Homo sapiens: one gene and its partners. The protein of the gene in region 4 interacts with the protein of the main gene of each other region in a pairwise test. Each region holds a gene or a part of one and is shown on either strand. Other genes may lie near its edges.

Evidence for each region.
Region 1: the proteins of DGAT2L6 (region 4) and ACSF2 interact in binary tests that used the Homo sapiens proteins (3 or more experiments, as listed by UniProt).
Region 2: the proteins of DGAT2L6 (region 4) and TMED8 interact in binary tests that used the Homo sapiens proteins (3 or more experiments, as listed by UniProt).
Region 3: the proteins of DGAT2L6 (region 4) and CIAO2A interact in binary tests that used the Homo sapiens proteins (3 or more experiments, as listed by UniProt).
Region 5: the proteins of DGAT2L6 (region 4) and SLC10A1 interact in binary tests that used the Homo sapiens proteins (3 or more experiments, as listed by UniProt).
Region 6: the proteins of DGAT2L6 (region 4) and HSD17B11 interact in binary tests that used the Homo sapiens proteins (3 or more experiments, as listed by UniProt).
Region 7: the proteins of DGAT2L6 (region 4) and RNF144A interact in binary tests that used the Homo sapiens proteins (3 or more experiments, as listed by UniProt).

Annotation. Positions count from the first base shown.
Region 1 is NC_000017.11:50,467,445-50,471,728, reverse strand, and holds part of ACSF2 (medium-chain acyl-CoA ligase ACSF2, mitochondrial isoform 2 precursor), read right to left. Parts: intron 3,690-4,284; coding exon of another isoform or gene 2,916-3,689; exon of another isoform or gene 2,849-2,915; intron 702-2,848; coding exon 594-701; intron 1-593. Other genes in the region: CHAD (chondroadherin precursor), read left to right, coding at 2,916-3,689. UniProt on the Homo sapiens protein: Acyl-CoA synthases catalyze the initial reaction in fatty acid metabolism, by forming a thioester with CoA. Has some preference toward medium-chain substrates. Plays a role in adipocyte differentiation.
Region 2 is NC_000014.9:77,341,975-77,346,258, forward strand, and holds part of TMED8 (protein TMED8), read right to left. Parts: intron 1,865-4,284; coding exon of another isoform or gene 1,850-1,864; coding exon 1,723-1,849; intron 1,510-1,722; coding exon 1,204-1,509; intron 15-1,203; coding exon 1-14.
Region 3 is NC_000015.10:64,073,903-64,077,073, forward strand, and holds part of CIAO2A (cytosolic iron-sulfur assembly component 2A), read right to left. Parts: intron 1,636-3,171; coding exon 1,590-1,635; exon of another isoform or gene 1-1,589. UniProt on the Homo sapiens protein: Component of the cytosolic iron-sulfur protein assembly (CIA) complex, a multiprotein complex that mediates the incorporation of iron-sulfur cluster into extramitochondrial Fe/S proteins.
Region 4 is NC_000023.11:70,183,719-70,188,002, forward strand, and holds part of DGAT2L6 (diacylglycerol O-acyltransferase 2-like protein 6), read left to right. Parts: intron 1-4,284. UniProt on the Homo sapiens protein: Diglyceride acyltransferase that uses fatty acyl-CoA as substrate. Particularly active with oleate as a substrate. Has no wax synthase activity to produce wax esters.
Region 5 is NC_000014.9:69,786,692-69,790,975, forward strand, and holds part of SLC10A1 (hepatic sodium/bile acid cotransporter), read right to left. Parts: intron 1-4,284. UniProt on the Homo sapiens protein: As a major transporter of conjugated bile salts from plasma into the hepatocyte, it plays a key role in the enterohepatic circulation of bile salts necessary for the solubilization and absorption of dietary fat and fat-soluble vitamins.
Region 6 is NC_000004.12:87,335,686-87,339,643, forward strand, and holds the end of HSD17B11 (estradiol 17-beta-dehydrogenase 11 precursor), read right to left. Parts: intron 1,682-3,958; coding exon 1,591-1,681; 3' UTR 830-1,590; downstream 1-829. UniProt on the Homo sapiens protein: Can convert androstan-3-alpha,17-beta-diol (3-alpha-diol) to androsterone in vitro, suggesting that it may participate in androgen metabolism during steroidogenesis.
Region 7 is NC_000002.12:6,920,008-6,924,291, reverse strand, and holds part of RNF144A (E3 ubiquitin-protein ligase RNF144A), read right to left. Parts: intron 1-4,284. UniProt on the Homo sapiens protein: E3 ubiquitin-protein ligase which accepts ubiquitin from E2 ubiquitin-conjugating enzymes UBE2L3 and UBE2L6 in the form of a thioester and then directly transfers the ubiquitin to targeted substrates.

The DNA of each region.
Region 1 (4,284 bases), on a different chromosome or scaffold from region 4:
GGCAGCGATCCCCCAGGGGCGGGAGCAGAAGGGTGCAGGGGAAATCAGGAGCCAGCTGGCACAGCCCCAGTGTTGGAGCAGGAAAGGAGGCATGGCTGGGCATTTGAGATTCAGGTGCACTCTGGGGCAACCTTTGAGGGGCAAAGGGACCGCCCCAAAGGGATAGGCTGCTTGGGAAATGAAGTGTTTACGCCAAGCAAGAAGAAGAACTCTGCTAAAGCGAGAGGCGAGCACCACTGGAGGAAAAGAAGCTGTGTAGGAAAACTCTCTGTGCTCTGGCTCCTCTTTGAGGCTACCCTGGCTGCCCTGAAACAGACAGTGGGCTTGGCAAAAACACACCTCAGACAGGAAGGGAGGCCGCGGAGAAGTTCAGCTGGCAGCCGCTCACAGCCACTGTTCCAGCTCTTCCCCTTTCATGCTTAGCCCACAGAGAACACTCCGGGCCAGGCCTAGCACACCCCTGCTGCTGGGGGGCTCTAGGCATCCTGAGTGAGCCATTTGACTCTCTCACTGAAAGCAACCGATGTCCCAGCTGGGTGCACCCCAGCTGGGTGACGGGAGGTGGGACTTTGGAGTCTTGGTCAGGGGCTCACCTCCGTGTGAGGCATAATTCTGCCCACGCTTTCTGCCTTCTGCTCCACAGTGTCCTCAGGGAAGTGCGCGAATGTCACGGGACTGTTCTCTGTGGTTCCATAAGCAACCTAGAGGGTCCAGAAAGGGTGTTTGAAGAGGGCTCAGCACGTGCAGAGGGATCAGGTGAGCTATCTGAGGAAATGGGAAGGAATTCATAAAAGAAAAGGGAAAGTGGAGGGCAGCCGAATGGTGGAAACAGAGACATCATTGGTAGGGGCCTGGGGTCAGGAGGCAGAGGTGCTGGGAGTGAGCAGACTAGATCTCTGCAGGGCCCCAGATCTGAAAGAAAATTGAGAGCAGGGACACCATTCTCTTCCAGCTGGAGCTCTCTCAGTGCCCCGTTTCCCTGGAGCAGCCACCTGTCTGTGCCTGTGGCTCCGGTATTACCAACACCCCACACTTCTCCCCCCATCCCCTGGCTGCCTTAACCCCACCTTCCTGATTTCAGGCCACATCCCCGGCTCCTCCCTTCCAAGCTGAAGGCCCCATAAACTTGATGAGAAAGCCAGCCTGCCTTGGCCCAGCTAGGAGTGGCACAGACACAACCCCACCCCCGCATTCTGCAAACCCTGAACAAGTGCCTGGCCTTGGGGCAGGCGTCCCCCAAGCTCTGGAGAGTTTCCCGTGAATTTATTTCCATCAAAATAAAAAAACAACCTAAGCAGTGATTTTAAAAACCAGTGGTACCCCCACCCCACCTCCCCCATTTCCAGTGGTTGGAAAGCCTGAGCAACAGAAAAACCAGAAGCCAGCCTTGGAGAAGCCTAAATACCATCAAGGAATGGTCTAGGCCAAGTATGACCCTCCTATCCTAGAGGCAAGGGGCAGAGAGGTTTGGGAAAAGGGCAGGCCCTGGAAACCAGGCCCCAACACGAGGGTACTGGGTAAGGGAAGAGAGGCTAGTTACCCCGTATCCTAGGTCCCCTTTAATCAACGGATACCAGATCTCATCCATCCTCCTCCCTGCACCAAGCTTCCCCCATATCAGCTGCTCTGGCTCTGGCACGGCTGGGGTTTGGTTCAATGTGGGTTCTGGTTTCTCCTTCCACCCCTCATCACAGACAATATCCTGTGCCAGGCAGCTTGGAGCTCACCCTGAGGCCAGAGCTGTGACCCTGCCTGCTCACCCTCCCCTTTCCACAGGAATCCGGACATCGTGGCTGGCAAGTGGGCACACAGAAATCTGGCGGGCTGGGGCGGGACTGCCCACAGAACTTAGGGTCTGGCAGCCAGAGCCGTCCAGGGCTGGTCCCTCGACCTGCCCCACCCCCTCCCGCACCCCTCCTCACAGTCCTGGGGCCACCGCCCGAATGTGGCATCTGCCAAGTACACCTCGGCGCCACTCAGCCGCCACCCTGAGACCCCTCAGGGGCGGGTCCTGACCACTAGGGTTGGGGATGAGGGATGGAGATATTTCGGGGCGATGAAGGAGGGGGGATGGTGCGACTGTGCTTGTGGCCTGTGGTTTCCAGGTGTGTTTGCCATTCCTGTGGGCCACTCTCCCCCACTTCCCACTTCTCTGCTTAGCCTTCAGCGGTGGAAAAAGGGGATGAGGGCGCCGGCGACAGAAACGCAAGCGGGGTTGGAAGAGAGGGGTGGGGGCGCGCCCGAGGGTGGGGAAGGAGCTCGGGTCTACCCAGGGCCAGCTTCGGCGCGTCGAGTCTGAAGTGGGAGACCGACGCCGGGGCGGCTCTCACGCTCGGCAGGCGCCGCACAAGCGCCCCTTTAAAGCGCAGGCAGCTGGCCCACCGCAGGGAGACGCATCCAGCTGTCCGGCCCCGCTTCCTCCCGCCTCGCATCCAGGGCACCCGGCCGAGCGTGTGTGGATGGCGCGGCGTGGAGGCTCAAACCTGAGCAAACAAATAAGTTGAGGGAACGCCTCCCTCTCTCCGATGTAAACTCGGGGCTCCAGACATAACTATTCCCCCTTCCCAGAAAAGCCCCGGGAAAGGCGGTAGGCAGAGGAGCACCATAGGAGAGCGGGGGGCTACAGCCGGGGCTCAGGGCTCGGGGCTCGGGGGCCACGGTCCCACCCCCTCATGCACGGTAGCCGGCTGGGGGAACGGCCCCGCCCCCTTCCCCGTGGAGGGCGGGGGCGCATCTCTGGGCGCGAGCGAGTTAAGCCCAGTGGCCTCGATGCTCCACGTAGGAGCTGGCTCGGCTGCCGGCTGCGGTCAGGGCCACCGTATAAAGAGGGCGGCAGACCCGAGCGCCTAGGACTCGCCGCTGCCCGCGCCCCGCCGCCGCTGCTGCCCCCAGCCCCGGCCCCAGGCGTCCCAGCCATGGTCCGCCCAATGCTCTTGCTCAGCCTCGGCCTCCTGGCTGGTCTGCTGCCGGCGCTGGCCGCCTGCCCCCAGAACTGCCACTGCCACAGCGACCTGCAGCACGTCATCTGCGACAAGGTGGGGCTGCAGAAGATCCCCAAGGTGTCAGAGAAGACCAAGCTGCTCAACCTACAGCGCAACAACTTCCCGGTGCTGGCTGCCAATTCGTTCCGGGCCATGCCGAACCTCGTGTCATTGCACCTGCAGCACTGCCAGATCCGCGAGGTGGCCGCCGGTGCCTTCCGCGGCCTCAAGCAACTTATCTACTTGTACCTGTCCCATAACGACATCCGCGTGCTGCGCGCAGGTGCCTTCGACGACCTGACCGAGCTGACCTACCTCTACCTGGACCACAACAAGGTCACTGAGCTGCCCCGGGGGTTGCTCTCCCCGCTGGTCAACCTCTTCATCTTGCAGCTCAACAACAACAAGATCCGTGAGCTGCGCGCAGGCGCCTTCCAGGGAGCCAAGGACCTGCGCTGGCTCTACCTGTCGGAAAACGCGTTGAGCTCCCTGCAGCCCGGGGCCCTGGACGACGTGGAGAACCTCGCCAAATTCCACGTGGACAGGAACCAGCTGTCCAGCTACCCCTCAGCTGCCCTGAGCAAGCTACGGGTGGTGGAGGAGCTGAAGCTGTCCCACAACCCCCTGAAAAGCATCCCGGACAATGCCTTCCAGTCCTTTGGCAGATACCTGGAGACCCTCTGGCTGGACAACACCAACCTGGAGAAGGTGAGCTCCTGGCTGTGGGCTCTGCCCTGGTTCCTTCTTCCCTTCCTGGAGGCCCCAGGAGCCAGGGCCACAGCTGGCACCATCCCCCGTCCCCAGGTTCCCTGTCCCTCTGGCTATCTCCAAGGTGAGCAGCTCTGCCACCTCCCTTCCTCGCCTTGTCACATCCCTACCCTAATCCCTGTCTGCTGCCAGTCTCGACCACTGCCCTCCTAGGATTCTTACATATAAAAGGAGTGGGACTGCCCTGGCCCCACAAAAGGCCCCCTAGGGCCATCTCCAGTGCTTCCAAACCCCCAACTGTGAGCAGCAGCCACCTCTTCCTGTTGGGCCTTCCACCCCTCCTCTGCTGTTTTTCCCGTCTCCAGTAAACCTACCACCCCATAAAGGAAGGTTTGTTTATTGAGGAGCCTTCCAGAGGAGCTGGGCAGATCAGGCCCACAAAGAGACCCTGTTCCTGGTGGGGGCTGTGCATGTGTGCTAAGGGGGAGTGGGGGACTGGGGAGTGAGGGGAAGCAAATGCCTGAGGAAGACATTCTCCATGCCCCATAGAGGCCCTGGTGGATGGCCCTGCCCAATCCACACAGACACAATTCAC
Region 2 (4,284 bases), on a different chromosome or scaffold from region 4:
AGCTGGAACGGGTTCTGCGTGAGCAAAATGGCAAAGTGTTCAGAGACTGCGTAAGTCCTGCCTGAAGGTGAGCGGAAGGACCAGGTGACCCAGTGGCTTTCACAGAGCGGGGAGATTATTGCCCTCCTACAGACATTTGGAAATGTCTGGTGATCTTTTGGTCATCACAGTGACTATTAGGTGATATCTGCATTTAGTACCCAAGGGTCCAGGAGTGCTAAAATCAGGATAGTACCTACACAACAAACAATGTCCCATCCCAAATGCCAATAATGTCTCCACTGAGAAAATGATTTAGCCTGAGAGGAGCCTTCCTAGCTTCAGAAGTGTCTGGACATTTCTGAGAGGGAGAAAGAGATATTTAGAAGAAAAGATCCCGATATTCTATCATTTAGTAGGTGAAAGGACTAGCTAACGAAGATAGGAATTGCAGATAAACGTGCTATAAAGTGACCCTAGGATTCCTGAAAAGCAGCAAATAAGATACAAGGTTCTCCGCTTTCCCAGATACCTGTAGGTTTCCCTGCCCGCTTGCTGTTCTATGAAGAAGCACGTTAAAGGACTGACTTTAAGATTATATAAGAAAATCAAGGAATAAGAGGAATAAGACTAATGCTTAGGACCTACTCTTACGTTATCTGAAAAATGCCTCTGGGCCATCCTTTGTGTAGTGTGTAGACACTACAAATAACAGCCGGAATGGAGCCCGGAGACCCTTTTAAAACTTGTCTGGGCATGAAGTAAAGAAGTAACCAATAGCCAGCTATGAGAGTTTGGGATAAGGAGAGAATGGATACCTTTAGCAAACTGTAATCACTCACTTTGGTTCCAGGCCAAGAATAAATATCTACAAACTAAGAGAGAGATGTAAAATAATCTCTGGCTTACATGCGACCTGAATGACCATCCCTCTAAACTGCCGCATGACTCACCCTCTCTCTGCTCCTGCCCCATCCCTGCCCCCAGGAAGGTGTTGGGAAAACAATGAGGTACCGATAAGGAAAAAGAGGCTTTCTTTCAATTAAGGCAGCAGTATCAACCCCACCAGAATGTTCTCTTTGGCCTGTACCACTCAGCTTAGCTTGTAATGCTGAGTTTCTCAACTGCATTCAAAGGAAGAGGAGGACTGGTACAACCCACAAAATGGTCACCAGAAATCAGATTAAGCCAGAAAACTGCAAATTAGGTTAAAATTAAATTTACCTTCAATCTCTTCCTCCTCTTCCTCTTCTTCATCCTCATCGTCACTGGAATCACTGACCTGCACAGTTATGTCAGTGCTAGTTACAGGGGTCCAGTCAAAATAAACTCCAAAGCCAATGTCATAGTCATCGGTCGCAAACTCCCAGCAGACACGCTTCCCCTCTGGATGAGTAGGTACCCGGATGGTCACCACCTCACCACGCTTCACCACCAGACGGCTGTTCTTCTCTTTGCCCAGCTTGCTTTTGAATTCCTTCACCTTGGCAAAGGTCCAGATGCATGGAGGAGCCATCAGAGGTGGGGAGACTGAAAGGACAAGCAGCTTAGCACTGAGAAACCATGAGGAAACATGAGTACCCCGGGCATTTTGCTAAGAGAGGCTGGCACAGTCAGACATTCTTTCTACTGGCTTGACTTCCTTTCACAAGTCATTTTCTTTCCTTCCATTTGTCTGTCTGCCTGCCTTTCTTTGAGTATCTACTGGAAACAAACCACCTCCTTTACTCCCAAAGGTCTCACCTTTCCTGTGGTCCCCCAGAAGATCTGCAGATTCCAAATCAGCTGAAAGAACATCTATAGCTCCTGTATGTTCAGACTGGATCATAACGATGTCCCCAGACCTCTGTGGAACTTGATACTTAGCCATCTGCACAACAGAACTCTGGTTAAAGGAGTATTCGAGTGGCAGATTCTAATTAATCTCTTTTTGCATGAAGGCTGCCCCACCCCTGCTCTATTATCTCCACTATCCCCACTCAAAGCTTAATGTACTAGTCAATGTTCCTTCTCTTTCTTCCAAATAGAAGTTGCTAATAAATTCTACTAATTTTTTAAAGCCATCAAAATATTCCATTGTTTAAAGACTGTTTCCTACCTTTTGCAACTTTCCTGCTCCAAACCCTTTATAAGGTCCTTGTCCGCCAACACCCTCGCAGGTTGTTAACAGTATTTGCATTGACTGTGATTCTGGGCCATGCCTTGGTCTTACCTCACCTGCACAGTACCTCCCTGTGGCTCCTCTCATTAATAGCTCTTGCTCCTAGGGTTTAGTTTGACTCCCACTCTGCCACACATCCTCCTGCTACAATTCCCACTCAAGGGTTACTTCTACATTACTGTCAATCAGCTCTCCAAAGCACTGCAGAGACAGAATCTGGTTTATAGTCTTTCTCTCTCATCCACAGCCCACCTCGGGCTACAGATTGTCTCAGTCTTGAAGTCACTAACAGTGTTCTATCAATAGTTACAATTTCACCTTAGACCAGCCCCAGGACTTGCATTTAAACAGTACATTTGCTGCCAGACGTCTGACTTACATGGAAGAATGCAAATGGCATTTGATACTCAAAGCCCTCACTAACCCATGCGGGAGCTTACAATGTCTCCCTGGTGAGTTTCCCTTCAAATCACTCAGATTAGTGTTCCTGGTTTCATGCTATTATACCTTAATTTCTGCCCCTTCTCCAAACAGTTGGCAGGCAACTCAACAAGAAAACTATACCTATTGCCCACAGGGGAGAGCACATCAGTGAGTCAGCAATCCAGTTAAGAGGCTGGAATTGTATTTGTGAGAAATAAATAAATCAAGTTTGTAATCCTCCCAGGCTGTATTCTCATAATATCTGTTTCTGGAGAATAAGCCCTCCAGTTCTCATCTCCTTTGCTAACTGAAATGAATCAGACTTTGGCTAGCGTGCTTAAATAAATCCTTCCTTTTCTAAAATGCTAAATAAAGGATTAGGTTGCAACATATTAGCTACATAGCCTTAGTAAAGTCTCTAACAGCCCTCAGCCTCAGTTTCCTCATTTCTTTCTTTCATTCCTTTTGAGACAGAGTTTTGCTCTTGTTGCCCAGGCTGGAGTGCAATGGCACGATCTCAGCTCACTGCAACCTCCACCTCCCAGGTTCAAGCAATTCTCCTGCCTCAGCCTCCCGAGTAGCTGGGATTACAGACACCTGCCAACACGCCCAGCTAATTTTGTATTTTTAGTAGAGATGGGGTTTTTCCATGTTGGTCAGGCTGGTCTCGAACCCCTGACCTCAAGTGATCTGCCTGCCTCGGCCTCCCAAAGTGCTGGGATTACAGGCATGAGCCACCGGGCCCAGCCAGTTTCCTCATTTCTTAAATGGAGACACAATGGCACCTATCTGACAAGGTTGTTCTCAGGAGTAAATGAAGTGTTACAGATACAAATGCTTGTAAACTGTAAAGTATTATACAAATCTAATTATAACGCCTGGTGGTGTCTTCATTGACACTAATACCAACCATTATTCTAACACATATGCTAATAAATGATAGAAACAACCCCATCCCGCCCCCATCCCTCCATGGCAGGGGCACCACTACACCATCACTTCCATACAGCTACTTGGAAGGCTGAGGCAGGAGGATCACTCGAGCCCAGGATTTTGAGGCTGCAGTGAGCCATGACTGCACCATCGCACTGAAGCCGGGTGACAGAGTGAGACCTTTGTCTCAAAAAAAAAAAAAAAAAAAAAAAATCAAGGCCAGGCACAGTGGCTCACATCTGTAATCATAGCACTTTGGGAGGTCAAGGCGGGTGGATCACCTGAGGTCAGGAGTTCGAGATTAGCCTGACCAATATGGTGAAGCCCTGCCTCTACTAAAAATACAAAAATTAGCCGGGTGTGGTGGCATGTGCCTGTAATCCCAGCTACTCGGGAGGCGAGGTGGGACAATCACTTGAACCCAGGAGGTGGAGGTTGCAGTGAGCCAAGATCGTGCCACTGCACTCCAGCCTGGGCGACAGAGGGAGACCCTGTCTCAAAAAAAAAAAAAAAAAAAAGCTTCTGTGGAATCTTTATCATAAATACTAAATAGATCTACCACAAGAAAAGTAAGAGCAAAATAGTCCAATGACTTCAGGCTCCTCAATGAAGAGGATTTTAGAGAACACATGAACATTCACTCTAACACTTCGTTTTCTGAATCGGTGCCTACTGGGTGCCAGTACAATGATGGGCCCTGTGGAAGATACAAATAATCATTCTCCAAAAAATAATGAAGACCAAGATGCCCTAAATTAGAGGGCAAAGAGAGAATTCCGGGAGCCACC
Region 3 (3,171 bases), on a different chromosome or scaffold from region 4:
AATAGCTGGTATTATTTAATAAAAACAAATACACATATATACATACATAAAACAGGAGATGGAAAACGGCTCAATATTATTGTCATAATTTGCATTTCCTTGACTAATAGGAAAATAGAACATTTTCCATGTGCATATATTAGTTCTTCTTGCATGAATTTCCTGTTCATGTCTCTATTAATCTACTAGATCTTTTTTTAAAATTAGTTTGAATGGATCTTCATATAATAAAGGTATTGGCCCATTATGTTTTCTGTAATTAGCTAACAGCATTCTTAATAGAAGAGTTCAAAAGAGAGACGACTATATTCTTAATGTGGATTGAGTTTTCTGGGCTGCCGCTGAAATGTCTCATGTAGAAGACACACAAACATACACATATTCCTGCGAAAATACTTTCAATTTGGTTTCTTCCTACTACAATGTAGGCTCCACAAAGGCAGGAATGTATCTCAAAGGCTGAACTGTACCCACACATAGAAGGCACTTAATAAATACTTACTAAATGAAAAACAAGACTCATAAGACTTAATACTATTGCTGCTGTAAAATCCTATCATTCAAGGAATTTCAAAACGATAACCTGAGTGGATTTAGGGTACCTAAACTCTTATTTTTCTAAATTACAGGTAGAAGCCCTCAGCTCGTGGGGTTTAAAGAAATTCAGCCCACAAAGAGTATAATAATCTACATGTCTAGAACTATAAATAGGGCATGGTTTTTAACAGTTTTCATGACAGTACCTAAAAAGTTTCCTGGATAGGCTGTTCCTCTGGAAGCAGCAGGCTTCCCTCTCTATAGCTCTCTTTTATGTAGGAGATTTTGTGTGTCTCTCTCCAGCCCTGTGTATGCCTTTCTGAGTCTTCTTGGTATCTATCTCACTGTTGCTCTTCCTCTATTAGCTCTTTCTTCCATTCCTCTGCTATTTTTTCCCACCTTCTCAATTTACTTAGTGATGAAACTTAAGTACAACATGCCTTTTAAATGTATTTCTCATTATTTGCACTCTATCATTTGTAGATTAAAAACATTAAAATTATGTTTTTAATGTAACACAGGGATCATACAGAACATTTTGTTTTTTGCTTTTCCCAAACCCCACTTCTGCTATTTTTAAGTAGCTACTGATTGATTTCTCTCTGTAGGCCAGAGGTCCTCTATATAAAAAAGGTTCCCCACTCCCATTCTAATATACTAACCCAGAGAGACAGCACCTACCCCAAGATTCACTAAAGCTCTACTTGCTAGACCTTCAATTTCAAGTACACAGCTCTCTATCCTGTCACCAAAGAAAAGAAGCCTACTTAGAGCTCATAAGTCAAGGTCCCCAGCACTGGATATTCTTTACAGATGTGTAGCCACTGGCCTAAACCAGTCAACATCCGTGGGCTCTAGTGCACTCGGAGTCCACTGCAAAAATTACTTCTTTGAAATGCCTAGGTTTCCTCACCTAGGAAGGAAGAGCCAATAACCAATTGTGCACTTTTTTGAAAGTAACCCAGTAGATTCTTGGCTGGCAGAAGAATCCAGTATCCAAGATAAAATACTATCTGAAGTTGTTTTTCAATTATGTTTCAACATTCACTTACTGTCTTCTTCTGTTGAGTGGGTTCCTTCAGAAATGTAGATTTCCAACTGGAAAGTGGGAAAAAAAGTAAAAGAAAAAACATTAATGCATTCTAAGATAAGAGAGTGAAGTGGAATGTACAGTAAATTCAAACATCTAGGGATGAGTGCCCAAATCCTGTTTCTTTTTTTTTTTTTTTGAGATGGAGTCTCACCCTGTTGCCCAGGCTGGAGTGCAGTGGCATGATCTCGGCTCACTGCAACCTCCGCCTCCTGGGTTCAAGCAATTCTCCTACCTCAGCCTCCCAATAGCTGGAATTACAGGCAGACGCCACCACACCCAGCTAAGTTTTGTATTATTATTTTTTTTTTTTAGTAGAGATGGGGTTTCGCCATGTTGGCCAGACTGGTCTCAAACTCCTGACCTCAGGTGATCCGCCTCGGCTTCCCAAAGTGTTGGGATTACAGGCGTGAGCCACTGCGCCCAGCGCCCCCCAAATCCTGTTTCTAACATCAGAGACATAGGGACAAATCCCCCACATCCTTCTCTAAAAAAAAAAAGGACTGAAATGAGTAGGATTTTTTATTTTGTTCACCTGGAAAAGGCCTGCAGGTGGTATTTCCATTAATTTTTTTATGAATACACAAAAATATCATTTTACACAAATGAGATCTCATATGTGTGGTTTTACTTAAGAATATCTCTTTTCTGCACTCTACTTCTTCCCAACTCGGTATCTAAACTTCCTCCTGCCCTGCTACTGACTCAGGAAATCTACAATAACAATCTAGTGTGGTTTCTTCCATATTCTTCTCTTTACCCACATAATCTTACACAGATTTTACACACACACACACCCACATATCAGGGTTGGAAGTTTCTTCACATTGCTTGTTTTACAAAAATGGGATCACAATATAGTTTTCAGCATCCTTCTTTTCTCATTCATTATTATCATGCTAAATTTATTCTCAAGTATAATACTGGTTAAGCTATCCCTCCTGGCCCTGCTGCACCTATAGACATGAGCTACCCTCCAAGACCCAGAGCTTTTAAGACAACCTACAAAATTATTGCAAATCCTGTGGTAAAGAGAGTATGCTGTAATAAAGACGTCTACTTTCCAGAGAACACTGGAACATATGAACTAATTTTTATTTACTTATTTACTACGGAGATAAACATTTCTCATGAGTGAGAAAAATCATAACTTATTATAGTTAAAAGGGACCTTAAAGGTCATCTAGTCCAATCTTTTTTTTTTTTTTTTTTTTGAGACAGGTCTTACTCTGTCGCCTAGGCTGGAGTGCAGTGGCGCGATCATGTCTCACTACAGCCTCGACTTCCTGGGCTCAGGTGATCCTCCCACCTCAGCTCCCACACTCCCACCCCTCTCCTCCCTCGTCTCTATTTTTTTGTAGAGACCGCGTATCGCCATATTGCCCAAGCTGGTCTTGAATTCCTGAGGTTAAGTGATCCGCCCATCTAGGCCTCCCAAAGTACAGAGATTATAGGCGTGAGCCACTGCACCTGGCCCCAATTTTTTTTAAAAAACAAAACAAGCCGGGCGTGGTGGCTCATGCCTGTAATCCCAGCAATTTGGG
Region 4 (4,284 bases):
CTGGTTTCTGGTACTGTAAAAAATAGAACAGGTTGGGTGCAGTGGCTCATGCCTGTAATCCAAATATTTTTGGAGGCCGAGGTGGGAGGATCGCTCGAGCCTGGGAGTTTGAGACCAGCTTGGGCAACACAGTGAGACTCCATCTCTACAGAAAAAAAAAAAAATCAAAAAATTAGCCAGGCATGGTGGTGCATGCCTGTGGTCCTAGCTATTGTGCAGGCTGAAATGGGGGGCTCCTTTGAGCCTAAGAGGTAAAGGTTAGAGTGAGTTGTGATCACGCTATTGCACTCTAGCCTGGGTGACAGAGTGAGATCCTGTCTCAAAATAAATAAATAAAAATAGAACATAGTCTTCAGACCAGTTCTGTCACTTACTTGCTATGAGACCTTATGCAAGTGAGTCTCTGTTATTTTCTATGTGACCTTGAGCAAGTAAGTCATTCACCCTGTACCATAACAGAAACAGCATAGTACCTGCCTCTCAAGACTGTTCCAGAGATCTTTGAGGTGAGAAAATCCTCAATACATGTTAATTTTCTTCCTTTTAACTACCGAAATTGACTACTTGGAGCCCAACCACCACACCTGATAAGATACTACCAACCTTGTCAATCTTGCCACTTGATCAAGAGAGGAGTGACAACCACTCCTCTGAGGCAGACACCTTAGACACTGACTTTATTACATCTTCAGGAAGAATAATGATAACTAAAGCAGATACAGGCTTTTTCTTTTTCTTATTTTCTTTCTTTTTTTTTGGAGACAGAGTCTTGCTCTGTCTCCCAGGCTGAGGCTGGAGTGCAGTGGTATGATCATAACTCACTGCAGCCTCGAACTCCTGGGTTCAAGCGATCCTCTTGCCTCAGCTTCCCGAGTATCTGGGACTACAAGTGTGCACCACCATGCTTGGTTAATTTTTAAATTTTTTTGTAGAGACGAGGTCTCACTATGTTGCCTGGGTTGGTCTCGAACTCCTGGACTCCAGGGATCCTCCTGCCCTGGCCTCCCAAAATGCTGGCATTACAGGAGTGAGCCACCATGCCTGGCCTAGACTTTGATGCATTCCCAGCATTCCCACATACCCCATCACGGCATCTTTCATTAATCCCCTTCCATCACCCCAGCATCAACTCAGCTGCGTTGGGCTGAAAAATTCTACCTCCTTGGTGACTTTCAAATTGGTATGTGAAATAGTAGCCTATTTCAGGTTCCCATTGGCTTTCATCTGAATGCCAAAACTCTTAGCTGATCTCTTTGCCTATAGTTTCTCTTGCTCTCACAGTTATTCCAGATTATCTTCCTGAAACAGACACGATCATGCTACTCTTCTGCTCTCTGCTTACTAACCTTTACTGGCTATTCATTTCCTTCAGCATCAGGCCTAATCTCTCCAGTTTCCTTCCCAGCTTCATCTCCTGTACCACGGCTTCCTTAGGCTGCCTGTGTTTTTGCAGGTAATGATGTTACTCCCAGGCCTTGGACTCTCCCATCTCCTGGACTTTGTTCAGGCTCTTCTTTGTGCATGGAGGACCCTTCCTCTACCAATCCATCTGACAAAAATCCTACCTTTCCTCCAAAATTCAACTTTGAACCTTATCTTTCACAAGAAACCCAGAGCTTCTCCAAGACAGGAATTTTGTTTTCCACACGTATTAATGTGAGTTAATACACATGAGGTACTTAAAATAGTTATTGGCACATAATGAATGCTATCTACTTTTTTTCCTACAGCTTGGAGTAAAGATACATGATCTCTCTGATTCTTAGTTTCTTCATCTGTAAAACGAGATAATAAAATTATCCACCTATGAGGACTGCAAGAACATTAAATGAGATAATATACATTAAGTGCTGAACAGAGTGCTGTTTCACAACAAATGGTCAATACATGGTATCAAGGACCATGCTTGCATTATTTTCATCATTTCCATATTTACTCCTTTCACCCTCCCCTTTCCAGTTCCCAACCCTGTCCCCATGGCTTTTAACATAGAGATTTCATATGAGGTAGGCTCATCAATGTTTACTGAATTATTAAATTACCTGTCACTCCTACAAGTTCTTATATTTATAGTTTATTTGGATCCAACAAGTAATCACAAAGCCACAGAAATTCCTCTTTGACAAACTACTTTTGTTTTTTTTTTGTTTTGTTTTTTTGTTTTTTTTTTTTAAATTTCTGAAGGCATTGAGCCAACTGACTAGATTAGGCAAGCATTGCCAACATTCAGATTTAGGTCATTGCCCCGAAACATGAAACATAATGTTTTCACCCATAAGAATTATAGGTTTTCACCTTACACTGGAAATAACTCGTTGCCTATATCCTTACACACACATGCACACCTTATAACTTCAGATAGCCTTTCCTTGTTTGGAATACGGTTTCTCTTCCTATTAACTTTCACCTGCAACTTGGAGAATTGTGAAATTGAACTTCTTCCTTTACTATAATTCAATGTAATGAACATTTATCATAAGCTATCTCTCTGTGTTTGGCACTGTGCTAAAGGCCAAACTTACTGTCTGATAGGGAGAGAGACAGACATATGAGGTACTAATTACACCATCAAACAAAATGAACCAGAACCAGAAAGAAGCACGAGTAATGTCTTGGGAGTGTGCAGAAGAGGGAGTCCTCAATTCTGACCGGGAGATGAGCAAAGATATCACAAGGAAGTGTCATTTGAGCTAAACCATAAAGCCTGAGAGAATTTTGATAAGCAGAAAGTTGGAAAGAGAGTAATAAAAATAAGGGAACAGTATCATCAAAGGCACAGAAATGTGAATTACATGGTGAGTTGAGGGAATGGGAAGTAGACAAAGGTGGTCGGGCCCGTTTCCCATACTTTAGCCATTTGTGTCCCATCTTCTGGCTCTTTCCACAGCTGTGTACCACCTATGCTATTATTACTTAACATACTTTTCCTTCAAATTAAGTCATCTCTGTAGCCTAAATTAATGTATTTTAACAGGAAATTTTATATCGCTACCATGAATTTGCTTTTATTCTCTATGCATTAAAATAACTTTTTATCCATACACCACCTTGGATCATCTAATGTCCCTACAGGGCATGGGAACACTAGGCTACGAAACACTTTGAGAAATACTAGGCTGCAGCATAAGGAATGTGAGTACGGCTACTGAGAGATGAGGCTAGGAAGACACGTGGGGCTAGGCCAGTGAGGGCCTTGAATACCAAGCCAATGTGTTCAGACTTTATTCTGTCAGCAGTTGGAAAATATTGATGGTTTTGGAGGAAGCAAACAACATTATGTGATTGTGCTTTTTAAAAATTTCTGGCAGAGGTGTGGGAAATGGATTGGAGGGGAAGAAACCCATAGCTGAAGGGCAGACAAAAGGCTGCAGTCCAGACTAGAAAAAAATCAAGTCCTGGACCATAGCAGTAGCAATGGGGACAGAGGCAGGAAGACGGATAGGAGAAGTTTTTTGTTTGTTTGTTTGTTTGTTTGTTTGTTTGTTTGGAAAGGGAAAGAAGTCAAAGATGGCCTAAAAATATTGAACCTATGACATTTATCTTGAGGCCTGAAAGATGAATAGGAACTAGCCAGACACAGAGCTGAAGAGAGAGTTTTCCAGGCAAAGGGGACCGCAGGCAGAGAAGCCCTGAAGCTAGAGAGCACTTGAAGGAGCTGAAAAAAATAGCATGGTGGAATGCAAAGAACAAGGTGGTGGCCAGAGACTAGATCACCAAGATCTCCTAACCCTTCTAAGCCAGGGTTAGGAGACTGGACTTGATCCTAAGGGCCACAGGAAACCATATTTATTGTTGAATTGTTAAATTACCATATACTCCCACAGGTTCTTATATTTATAGTTAACTTAGATACAGTAAGTAATCATAAAGCCACAGATATGCCTCTTTGATAAACCAGCCATGTCCTTGGCTACATGCTATAGATTGATAGAGACAGACTTGCATTTAATGCACTGGCTGCATCATGGCTCAAATGGAAGCAGGCAGCCTATTTAGAAGACACTGGTAGTCATCCAGGTGAGAGATAATGGTGGCTTTGACCAAGTGGTAGCATGGAGGTGGGAAATAGAATAATTTGAAAGATATCTGGAAGGCAGAACTGGCAAGAATTGGTAAATGACTAAAGGGAAGTAACAGCTAGAGCTTAGTGGTTAAGGGTACAGTCTCTGGGGTAAGACAATCTTGGTTTTCAGCCCTGGCCACTCACCTGCTAGCTGTCTAATCTTGGAACAATGTAATCACTCTGAACCTCAGGTCCTCATCCACAAAATGATAATGATTACT
Region 5 (4,284 bases), on a different chromosome or scaffold from region 4:
TTCCATTACTCTGGTCATTAGCCCATTGGACCATGGAATGGCACCTGACCCACAGTTACTAAATGTCTGGTTTAGAGCCTAGGGAATGGCTTCTTGTAGTGACTTTGTCCAACGGAGACAATAACAATTAGCTATATCAGCACATTTTACCTCGTGGGGAGTCTGAGTGTGAGACACAGTGACAGGACACTTGGTCTTTGGGGATGGGTGGCATGGGAGTGATGCTCAGGCAGAAGTCAAAAACCCTACTAGAAAAATCAATAAACAGATACCATGATTAAAAGGACTGTAAAAGAAATAGTGAAGCAGTAAGAAACAGAATAATTGAAGGGCCATAATGGTGGGGTAGTAGAGAAGGCAGTAATAGATACCCATGTTGAGTAAGTGACAAGATAACCTGGTCAGATTTGCTTTGCATCTTGGATAGTATTCCAGTCCCCAACTCTGGTGTTCTCATGTTCTTTACTTTCTGGTTCCTCTTGATATTATTTAAAATAAATTATGACACTCAGAGCCTGAATAATATGTCCTTCCAGCTCTAATATGTATCCTACTTGTCCAATTTCCTTTTCCATTTGGAATCTTATATATGTTAGTCCCAGGACCCTGTCTAGGGAGAGGCCCTCCAGAAAGGTCAACTGAGAAGGAAGCTGATAGGGCATCTCCTTAGATTTATGGACATTTACATTAACAATATATGGCTCTGACTTTTATTCCAGTGGGAAGATGGTTGGGAGGTGAGGGCTTGGCAAGATCTTAGGAAAACCACACTCAGTGTGTCCCTCCTCCTCCCCACAGCCCTACCCTCCATCTACACTTCTTTCATTATTTCTATAAAGATGGAATATGGCTTAAATATGCATGAAGAGCAGCCTATATCAAAGGTTCCAGAGCGTAGCCATCAAGAACAATAGGTAGGCATGTCATAAGGATAAGAGCTGTTAGAGGTGAGAAGAGTCCCTCAAAGAAAATTGTGAACTAGGTAATAGGAACTCCCCCACCCCCGTGAACACTTAAATACACACTTGAGCTTGTAAGAAATTAACACTCAATTTAAGTGTGGCATAGTGGCTCATGCCTATAATTCCAGCATTTAGGGAGGCCGAGGAGGGAGGATTGCTTGAAGCCAGGAGTTTGAGACCAGCCTGGGCAACAAAGTAAGACCCCTGTCTCTACACACAAACAAATGAACAAACAAACCAAAAACCACACACAAAAATTAGCCAGGTGTGGTGGTGTGCACCAGGAGTCCCAGCTACTTGGGAGGCTGAGGCAGGAGGATGGCTTGAGCCCAGAAGGTTGAGGTTACAGTGAGCTATGTTAGCGCCACTCCACTAAAAAAAAAGGTGCCCACGGACAAGAAACAAATGCAAAGTAGTGGGGGAACTCAAGCTGAAGCTTCATAGAGGGGTTCTGGAGGGGAGTGGGGTGTTAGTCTTGGCACTGTGGAGGCTTTAATGCCCAAGGAAGGGACCAGAATTGAGGTATTAGACCTGGGATGGGAGGAGCATTGAAACTGAGCAACCAATAAAAGGATCATGGGATGAGGGGAGGGGAACTTTCTAATTATATCATCAAATATGAAATCATGGTGGAAACAGTATTTAGAATATAAAAATAATAAAATACATATTTAAAAAACATGGAGAGGGGACTTTGGATTAGGCAATGGTTTCTTAGACATCTAAAGCACGAACAGCCAAAGAAAAAGGCAAGTCAGACTTCATTAATATTAAAAACTTGTGATTCAAAGGACACCATCAAGAAAGTGAAAAGCCAACAAGAGAATGGGAGGAAATATTTGCAAGTCATATATCTGATAAGGGTCTAATATTCAGAATATATATGAAGAACTCTTTTTTTTTTTTTTTGAGATGGAGTCTTGCTCTGTCGCCCAGGCTGGAGTGCAGTGGCGCAGTCTCGGCTCACTGCAAGCTCCGCCTCCTGGGTTCACGCTATTCTTCTGTCTCAGCCTCCCGAGTAGCTGGGACTACAGGCGCCTGCCACCACGCCCGGCTAATTTTTTTTGTATTTTTAGTAGAGATGGGGTTTCACCGTGTTAGCCAGGATAGTCTCGATCTCCTGACCTCGTGATCCACCCGCCTGGGCCTCCCAAAGTGCTGGGATTACAGGCGTGAGCCACCGCGCCCGGCCAATATATGAAGAACTCTTATAATGCAATAATAAAAAACAAGTAAAAAATGGGCCAAGGATTTGAATGAGATATTTTCCCAAAGAAGATATACAAATGGCTAATGAGCACATGAAAAGATGCTCAACATCATTACTTATTAGGAAAATGCAAATCAAAACCACTTTGAGATACCACTTTATATCTACTAGCATGGCTATAATTAAAAAGCTGGACAATAACAAGTGTTGGAGGGTATATGGAAAATTAGGAATCCTCATACACTGGTGGTGGGAAGTAAAATGGTGCTTTGGAAAATAGTTTGGCAGTTTCTAGAAAATTTAAACACAGAGTCACCATATAACCCAGCAATTCTACTCTTAGGTATATATCCCAAGGGAACAGAAAGCATGTTCACACAAAAACTTGCCTGTGAGCTTCCATAGACATTATTCATACTAGGGAACAAGTAGAAACAACCCATGTGTCCATCAGCTGAATGAATGGATGAGCAAAATGTATTATATCCATACAATGGGATATTATTCAATTACAAAAACAAATGAAGTATTGTGACATGCTATCACATGAATGAACCTTGAAAATATGCTAAGTGAAAGAAGTATAGATACAAAAGGTCACATATTGAATGCTTCCATTTATGTGAAATCCATAGAGACAGAAAGATTAGTGGTTGTCAAGGGTTGGAGCAGGAGAGAGAAATGGGGACTCCTGCTAAATGGGATGGAGTTCCTTTTTGGGGTATTGAAAATGTTCTGAAATTAGATAATGGTGATAGGTTCACAGGCTTGGAATTATGCTAAAAACCAAGGCATCGTACAATTTAAAGAATGGATTTTATGGTATGTGAATTATATCTCAATAAATAGTAATTAAAAACCATGCAGGGAGCAAATAAAGCAATTATTAAAGGGCAATTTATAGCCTAACATATTTATATTGAAAAAGAAGATTAAAAATTAATGAGTTAAGCACCTTAAGAGGTTAGAATGAGAAAAACCCAATAAAAAGAAAAGGAAGAAATTTTTTAAGTTTTGTAAATTGTTAGAATCAGTAAAACCAAAAATAGGGTTTTTTTTTTTTCTTTTTTTTTTTAAAGGCCAATTAAATAGGCACCTCTGGCAAGGCAGACCAGGGAAAAGAGAGATGGCACAAATTGATGAGGTTAGTGTGAAAAAGGGAACATAACTACAGAGAAAATGAAGATTTTAAAAAGTCATTAAGGACATTTTCATACTTTCATTTTTAACTTAAATGGACAATTTCATGGGAAATATAACCTACAAAACCAAGTCAATATGAAGCCGAAAACCTGATTCAACTTAGAATCATTTAAGACATTTAATAAGCAGTTCAAAACCTATCTTCTAGAACCCTACATGATTTATACTGTCTTACGGTAGTGTTCTACTAAACATGCAAAGTGCAGATTGTTGCAATATTATGCAAATCTGTCCAGATAATATAAAAAGGGGAAACATGCCCTAATTTATTGTATAAAGTTAATATGATCTTGGAACGAAAGCTGGAGAATGATATTACGAGAAAAGAAAATTGGGGACCACTCTTATTTATGAACATAGAAACAAAAATAATAAAATATTAGCAAATAAGTGTTTTAAAAAATACAATGAACAAGATGAGTAAGAATGATTTAACATTAGATAATCTATTAATACATATTACTATATTATTAAAGAAATGGTACAATTTTGTAGCTATAGAAAAGTCAACAAAATTTAATGTTCTTACATAATAAAAATTTAGTACACTAGCAACGGAATGAAAATTCCTTAACTTGAAAGGAAATCTATTAGAAAAAGTATATTAAACGTTAAACTTAATGGTAAATAGAGGGATTTTCTTTAACAAGAGGAATAAAGCAAAGATAGTCATTATTATTACCTGTTTTATAAATTATACTATATATAGGCCCTAGTAAGCACAGCAAAACAAGAAATAGAAAAAGTATAGGGATGGGAAAAGAAGAAATGAAACTTTCTTGTTTTGCCAATGATAGGATTGTCCACAGAAGAAATCTAAGTAATTTTCCATTATAACTGGTAAGTAAGAAAATGTATGAGGTTCTAAATACATTAGCATCAGTCAGTCAATCAATTGGGTCTGATATA
Region 6 (3,958 bases), on a different chromosome or scaffold from region 4:
ATATGAACTGTCTGATAAAAGGATTAAAGTTCTCCATGTGTATGTGTTTGACATAGCCTTTTTTATTTTTATTTATTTATTTTTGAGATGGAGTCTTGCTCTATTGCCCAAACTGGAGTGCAGTGGCACAATCTTGGCTCACTACAACCTCCGCCTCCGGGGTTCAAATGATTCTCCTGGCCCAACCTCCTGAGTAGCTGAGATTACAAGTGCCCACCACCACACCCAGCTAATTTTTTTTTTTTTTTTTTTTTTTGAGACGGAGTCTCCCTCTGTCTCCGGGCTGGAGTGCAGTGGCACCATTTCGGCTCGCTGCAACCTCAACCTCCTGGGTTCAAGTGATTCTCCTGCCTCAGCCTCTCAAGTAGCTGGGACTACAGGCACCCGCCACCACACCCAGCTAATGTTTGTGGATTTTTAGTAGAAATGGGGTTTCACCATGTTGGCCAGGATGCTACTGCTCCAAAGAAGTGCTTCTCAAATTTTAATATGCATACAAATCATCCGCCCGCCTTGGCCTCTCAAAGTGCTGGGACTATAGGCATGAGCCACTGCGCCTGGCCTACGCCCAGCTAATTTTTGTATTTTTAGTAGAGATGGAGTTTCACCATGTTGGCCAGGCTGGTCTCAAACTCCTGACCTTGTGATCCACCCACCTCGACCTCTCAAAGTGCTGGGATTGCAGGCGTGAGCCACTGTGACCAGCCGTGTTTGATATAGTCTTGAAAATATTTTTCTTTCGTAGAAGAAACCTAACAAACCTACTAAATTTTTAAATTTATAGATCTGATCTTATAGTCCCATCTCAATGAGCCTCACATCCAAGAAATTTCCAGTTTTTAAAAAAAGATTGCACAATTTATTTTCCTTTAATTTGAAGGTTGTCATGTTCTGTTTAAGACAAAAAGATGGAAACACCAAAAGTTTAAGTGTGATCCATTTATTATTGCTGCCATTTGTGGGTACATTCTCTCAATTCTCCTTAAATCCCAGTGATGCTTTTATACTTGCAACACGTGTATCCACCTCTAGCTTCCCTGTGCAGAAATGTTTGGCATTGGAATGTGAGGTATCTCTCAGGAAACAGAGTGGCAATGGGTAGGATGAAACCTACCCATTGAGAGTTCATGATATTCATTGTGAAATACCACTAGATATAGTCCTTCATTTTATTTAGAGAGCTTGAAGTTTCTGATTTTATGTAGAACAGAAAAAGAAACACAAATTATACAAAATTTAAGTGCAATCAAAAATAAAAATATATGTTAAATAAACGGTTATGGTACAAATTTTGCAAAGCCTTCAGGTGAGCCACAAATAATCTTGGAAATTATTTTAATAAAGTCATTTTGGTTCTTTTTCTTCATTTTCCTTAAAGTCACCTCTAAAGGTATTTCTCTGTTTATATCATATGTAATCAGCTTTTGGCTAAAGAACAAGTGGTAGTAAATGAAGACTGCCAAAGCCTCAAAAATGATATTGAAGAAATGGGGATAATTAGAAAAAACAGAAGTTCAAACATTAAAATTCTGGCACTATTAGATGACATCAACCTAAACCTGGTAAATCAGTTTTCAGAAAACTAGGTGCTTATTGCGCTTTCATTTTATATCCAATAACTGCATCAAACTTAACACTGATTTTTCGTTTTAAAACTGCCAGGAAACGCTCAGGAAGGATCCTAAAAGAAAGATATATGCAAATAATTAGAAAATTAATATTAAGTGCATTTGTAGAATACCCTCTTTAGAAATACTTTTAAGTTATCATGTATAGTCATGTTCATGTTAAATAAGATTAAGCATCTTAAATCTGAGTCACTACTATATATTCTTTCCCATTAAATCTATTTCCTTTTCAAATGGAAAAGAAGGCTTAGCCTTCTTTACAGTAGAATAACCTGAAGTAGTCAGTTTTTGAAACAAAAGATCTGAGGGAGGAGGTGTAAGAACTGAAGAGTTGAGATACTAAAGACTTTACAAAAAGAAACCCGACATTAAAAAGGAAATGAGAATAGGAACTAATTTTGTACTTTATAATGCAGAATATTATTAAAATGTTCCACTAAGAGACTGCGGAAGTAGAACTGCTAAATAAAAATGCAGACAACGCTTTGGTTTTGAGCATAATGCTGAACCAATTATTTCACCTTTCAGTTTAAATTCCTCACGTGTAAATGGAAAAATTAACATCTATCCCTCAGTGTTCTTTTGTGGAATCAATGTGTTACTATATTAAATAAAATGTCTTGGCCTGGCGTGGTGGCTCACGCCTGTAATCCCAGCACTTTGGGAGGCAGAGGCGGGTGGATCACGAGGTCAGGAGACCGAGATCATCCTGGCTAACACGGTGAAACCCTGTCTCTACTAAAAATACAAAAAATTAGCCAGGCATGGTGGCGGGTGCCTATAGTCCCAGCTATTCAGGAGGCTAAGGCAGAAGAATTGCTTGAACCTGGGAGGTGGAGGTTGCAGTGAGCCCAGATCATGCCATTGCGCTCCAGCCTGGGCGACAGAGCGAGACTCCGTCCCCCACAGCACCCCCCCAAAAAATGTCTTGAACAGTGACGGACACTAGCAGGTCTCATCTCTTTTCTCCAGACACTACACTTAGAATATTTAGGGAGTTGTCACATTCCAGTGGGTCTGGGAGAAAACAAAACAGAATATGTAAATCAACATAATAATATACAGAAATCTGCCTAGATGGCATGAAAAGAGGGTTTGGAAATATGACACCAATGTGACCTCATAACAAGAATTAGGGCAATGATAATAATAATAGTAGTAGTTATAATAACAGTGGCATATAACATTTATTGAGTACTTACAATGTACTGAGTACTTTTTATTTTATTTATTTATTTTTGAGGTAGGGTCTTGCTCTGTTGCTCAAGATGGAGTGCAGTGGCATGATCATGGCTCACTGCAGCCTCAACTTTCTGAGCTCAAGCAATTCTCCCACTTCAGCCTCCTGAGTAGCTGGTACTACAGGTGTGTTCCAACACGCCTGGCTAATGTTTTTGATTTCTAGTAGAGACAAGGTCTTATTATGTTGCCCAGGCTTGTCTTGAACTCTTGACCTCAAGCAATCCTCCTGCCTCAGCCTCTCAAAGTGCTGGGATTACAGGCGTGAGCCACCGTGCCCAGCCCTGAGTACTTTAAGAGCATTATTTTCTTTATTCGTCTCAGCCCTATAAAGTCCAATTGTTTTCTCCATGTTACAGATAAAGAAACTGAACTTCAGATAAGTTAAAAAACTAATCCATGTTCATGTTGCAAGCAAGTCACACAAACACAGCTTCATTCAACTCCAGAGCACAAACTTTGAGTCTTTATGTTTAAAGGTCTAGAAACTAGAATTAATTTATTCAATCAACAAACATTTTGGTGCCTCTAATGTGTCAGTCACTCTTCAAAATGCAGAGCATACAGTGATGAAAACTAGGCAAAATTCCTTCTTCTATAGGTTTATATTCTAAGGGGCTGCGATCACTGAGTGCATACTTACGTAACATGACAAGTACAATGCCAGAAACATCACAGGCTTTAACTCGTCTACTCACCAAAGAGATCCCTGAGCTTTACTATCTAAACCTCCAAGGCATGTTCATCATAGTTTTTAGCAGAAGGGGCAAGAAAGCCTAACATATGTCATGCTTTTCATTTCTTGAGTTTTTTGCTCTTCGCATCAGTAATTCTCAAAATATAATCTCTGGACCACTGTCTGTGGCAGTTGCCTATTAAAATACAGATTTCCGGTCCAACTCAAACATCCATGTTAAAATCTTTAGAAGTGAGATCAAGGGATCTATTTTTAAATAGACTTCCCAAGTGATCCTGATATCCCACTGACTTGGAGAAGCCCAGTCTAGGACAGGCAGCAAGAGGCTTTTTCTCCCAGCTGTCCTAAGGCACCTCTCCCCTTTCCCCTCCTTATGTGGCCAGCCTCATTGCCA
Region 7 (4,284 bases), on a different chromosome or scaffold from region 4:
GCCACGGAAGTCTCGCCAGCTGTTACTCTGGATCTCACTTACATGGTGTCTACACAACCACGGTACCCAGGATTCTCTCTCTGCATTCCAGGCCACCAGGCTACATTCTACCATCCTCACTCTTAAACCCAAGCAAATATTCCCATCTGACTTCTCAGGGTCTTAAGGTGTATTGTTCTGTGACCTGACCTAAAGAGAGAACCTGGTTTACTCGGATCATGATGGAATACAGAATTTACACTCGAATTCCATTTCTTCATTCATAATCTGTTCCAGGCTTCCCTCTTGAACCAGGTTTCTCTATCTTGTATTCAATCACTTAACAAAAATCCATTCAGAAAGAGCATGATAGGCACTGAGAGAATGTAAAAATGAGTAAGTTCCTACCTGTGCAGAGATTATAATTTAGCAGAGGAAATAGGATGGTTACATAAATCAGTAAAATTGGATTAGAGAGTTTTAAACGCAACTACAGGTTCTGAAAAAAAAAAATAAAGTTGCTATGGAAGCACCTGGTGGGGAAAACATTTGTGCCTGGGAAGACGAGAGAGAACGCAGGCACCTGGGCCTGCAGGACCTGGCCTGGACCCTGGAGCTTTAACTCCGTCCCAGTTCTGCTCCGTGCGGCTCCATCTTCTCATCTGTGCAATGCCAGTGTCAGAGGAGAGCATCTCCACAGTCACCCACATTGGCAATTTTACAGCTGGAAGGAAAGGCAGCATTTGTGATGAGCCTTCAAGAATCATTAGGAAGCTGGCACATGGATGGTGGGAGAGCGTCCCAGGGCACACGTCAGCAGCTGCTGAGATCAGCCCTGGAAAGACAGGCTGGAGCCAAGGCAGGAAGAGGCTTGAACACTCAACCCGCGGGCTCACAGGTAACTTGGGCAACGAGCGTGGCTGGAGGTCTCTGAATAGAGAAGTGTTAACAGACACCGACAGGCTTAACACACAAGCTTCCCAAGAAAGTTAACAAAAAAAAAGGTGTGCATTGATTCCAGCTTCAGCGCATTTCCGTTTCAGTGAATGTTTGAACTTGAGGAGAGAGTCCCTTCATGCAGACATCTGAGTATTTCTGTGGAGGGAACACTTCCTACCACCCAAATGGGGACATGAGGAAGCGCTGCTGCCTCCCTGGCAGGCCCCCTTTCATTCAGAGGATATGGGCAGACCTCACTGAAGAGGCTGTAGCAGGGGTCGAGCAGGTGGTGCAGACATCAGAGAGTTCACTCTAGAATGCTGGAAACTTGCAGAGGAGGCTGCAGACCAGTCAGCGACGGAGGGTGCACAGAGGGGACTCCTGCAACCCACCAGATCACCAGCCAGGTGACACACCCTGGAGTCTGAGACACACTATGAAAAAGCAGGAGGCCGGGCGCGGTGGCTCACGCCTGTAATCCCAGCACCTTGGGAGGCCGAGGCGGGCGGATCATGAGATCAGGAGATCAACACCATCCTGGCTAACACAGTGAAACCCCGTCTCTACTAAAAATACAAACAATTATCAGGGTGTGGCGGCGGGCGCCTGTAGTCCCAGCTACTCGGGAGGCTGAGGCAGGAGAATGGCGTGAACCCAGGAGGCGGAGCTTGCAGTGAGCTGAGATTGCACCACTACACTCCAGCCTGGGCGACAAAGTGAGACTCCATCTCAAAAAAAAAAAAAAAAGAAAAACAAGAAAAACCGGGCGGGTCCCCTCTGCATGGCTCGCAGGAGGCAGTCAAGCTTGCTGCATTCTGCACTCCTCTGCCCTCCAGAGGACCTTAACACACCATGCATCAACAATAAACATGCCCTGCTCCACAGAATTACCTGAAAGCAGTTCTTGGGAAACCTAAAAAGTATTCCCAGGAACACAATGTTGTAAGAGATGTGCACAGTCCTTGGACAGACACAAAAGCCCGTTCAATCAATAAAGAGACTCTGACAACATCCACTTTCAGGACTTGGAACCCTTCCCTTTTGCTCCCACAGGCTCCCATAGGCAGAAGCCCCCAGAGCCTGCACGGCCATATCCAGCACATGCACGGGGCTAATGTCTAGTTCGCTGGCCCCAGTCAACTATGGGTCACTCGGAAGACATGGGAGCAAGGTGACTGACTGTAAAAACAATGGTCGCTATGGGTGGTTCCCCTGATCTTTCCCTGAACTCACTCTCCCACCAGGTAGAACTGGAGGAGGAGGAAAGGAAATGGAGGGAACACAGATAGGGAAAGACGCTCCAAAACAAAACAGTGAAAAGGAAAATGCACTGATGGGACCTTCCAGGAGATGCCAGTAATGAAAGCGGCTGTATTACACACGGAAATCTGGGTCCAAACAGCTCAGAGACCACCAGCCACCCTAAAAAGGCCAATGGTAAGGCAGCTGGGGAGCTCGGCCCTGTGTGCTGGTCCTAAGTTCCCTGTCCACCCCAGGCTGTTTCTTGCTGTTCCCAGGCCCAGAATGTGACCTTGTCCCTCTTAATTTGCCTAGCTAACTCTGACCCGTCCCTCCCATCCCAGACCAACAGCATCGCCCCAGCAGGCAGCCTCCCTGCCACCCGGGGCTGATCCAGGCACCCTCCTGTGGGTCCCACTGCTCTCTGCCCTGACCTCCCATGCTGCCCTGACCCCACGGTTCAATCTGTTAATGTTTGAGCTTCCCGCTCCCTAGACTACAGCCTCCTCAAGGTCATGGGATCTATCCTTATCTGCAGGCCTCTGGGTTCAAAGCCAGGCTTCAAAATTGACGACGTGTGTGCGATGTTGGACAACATCCCTGCTCTCTGCTTCACTCTGCTCCTCTGTCAGCTAGGGATAGCAACATACGCCTGTGCTGCAGGGCTGTGTGAGAACTGCATCCACGATGCAAGCAAAGCCCTGAAGATCAGGCAAATCCATAATGAGTATCAACCACCTCCTCCACCTCTAGTGCCAAACACACCTGAGATGATAAAATACTGGTTGACACACTGCATGCCACCAAGGAGCTTGCTTTTGTCTGGAACACTGCATCCAGCTTATAAGCCTGCTCCTTAGAGAAAGCCTGCCTTCCAGTTCTACGGAACATCCAGGAAGTAAGCACCTTTAAATTCAGGTCTTGGGTTATTTGTGGAGTGAAGCAAGGTGAAGGCTCCTATCAGCAATGAGCCACCCTCCTCAAAGCTTCATTTCTCACCATTTCACTTTGGAAAAAATCCACTCTTCTGAAAGTTAAAATATTTTCTCTTGGGAAACAAACAAACCCTTACGAATGGTTGTACTTGGTGAGTCGTCCTGTAATATTTATTCTCCTGGAAAAAAAATATGATCCAACAGTACATTTTTATTTCTGGATCTTGGAAAATATTTACACCAACACCTCAGTTTTATCCTCAAAAAACTGGAGCCATCCAGGGAGGTTAAGACGCTGGCCCAGGGCCAGACAGCTGGGTCAGGAAATTGTAATAAGCTCTATCCTTCAGCCCCACTACCCAGCAGGTATGTGAGCAGTGGCTTCAATTTAATTTCTTCATCTAACTAAGAAAGGGTATTCATGTGTTTCAGTAATGCAGAAACAACGGAGAAAGGAGGCTAGTCTTGGAAATGATTACTTCTTAAAGAAAAGAAAGGCACCTCCAACTTCATTCTTCGATCTCAATGTTAGAAAATTCCCCAGAGAAAACACGGAGAGTCCCTCTTCCTTAGAAGCACTCCATTCCATTCCCCGCCTCTGGGCTGCCTCTGAGATCCCACATCCTGTGAAGCCAGGGGTTCCTTGCTCTAAGAGAGTCTGAGGGCTCAATATCATCCTGAATGGTTCCAGACCACCCAACGTGCAGGGCAGCGAGCACGGCTTCATCCTCTTCTATTGCAAGTGAGGTATGGGAAAAAAGGGACAGCAGACAGAACCAGAAAAGCTGATGCCAGGGCTGGACCAGCCACAGCTTTTCATGTGGCCTGGGCTACCTGACCCCTCCTTTCCAAGCTACGAGGTTCCCATGGTTACAACAAGGGTTCATAGGCCAGGTGGGTGCTGGCCCACCTGGTTCTGTGATTGTCAGTCTCCAAGGGCAGGCTTCCTTCCCATCTCTACCCCCAGAGGGAAAGGCTTCCAGGAGGGAGAAATGTGAACAAAAGTAGGCAGTGGGGCCACGTGGTGGACCACAGGGGAAAGAATGTTCTCAGAGGCAGGCAACGTAGCTTGTAGCTCCCAACCCTGCCGCCGCCTGCCAGAGTGGCACTTCTACCCCTGAACCTCAGCAGCTTCAGCCAAACAGTGTGAGGTCCCTTCAAAGTCCCAAACCACACTGAATCCCCAGGAGAC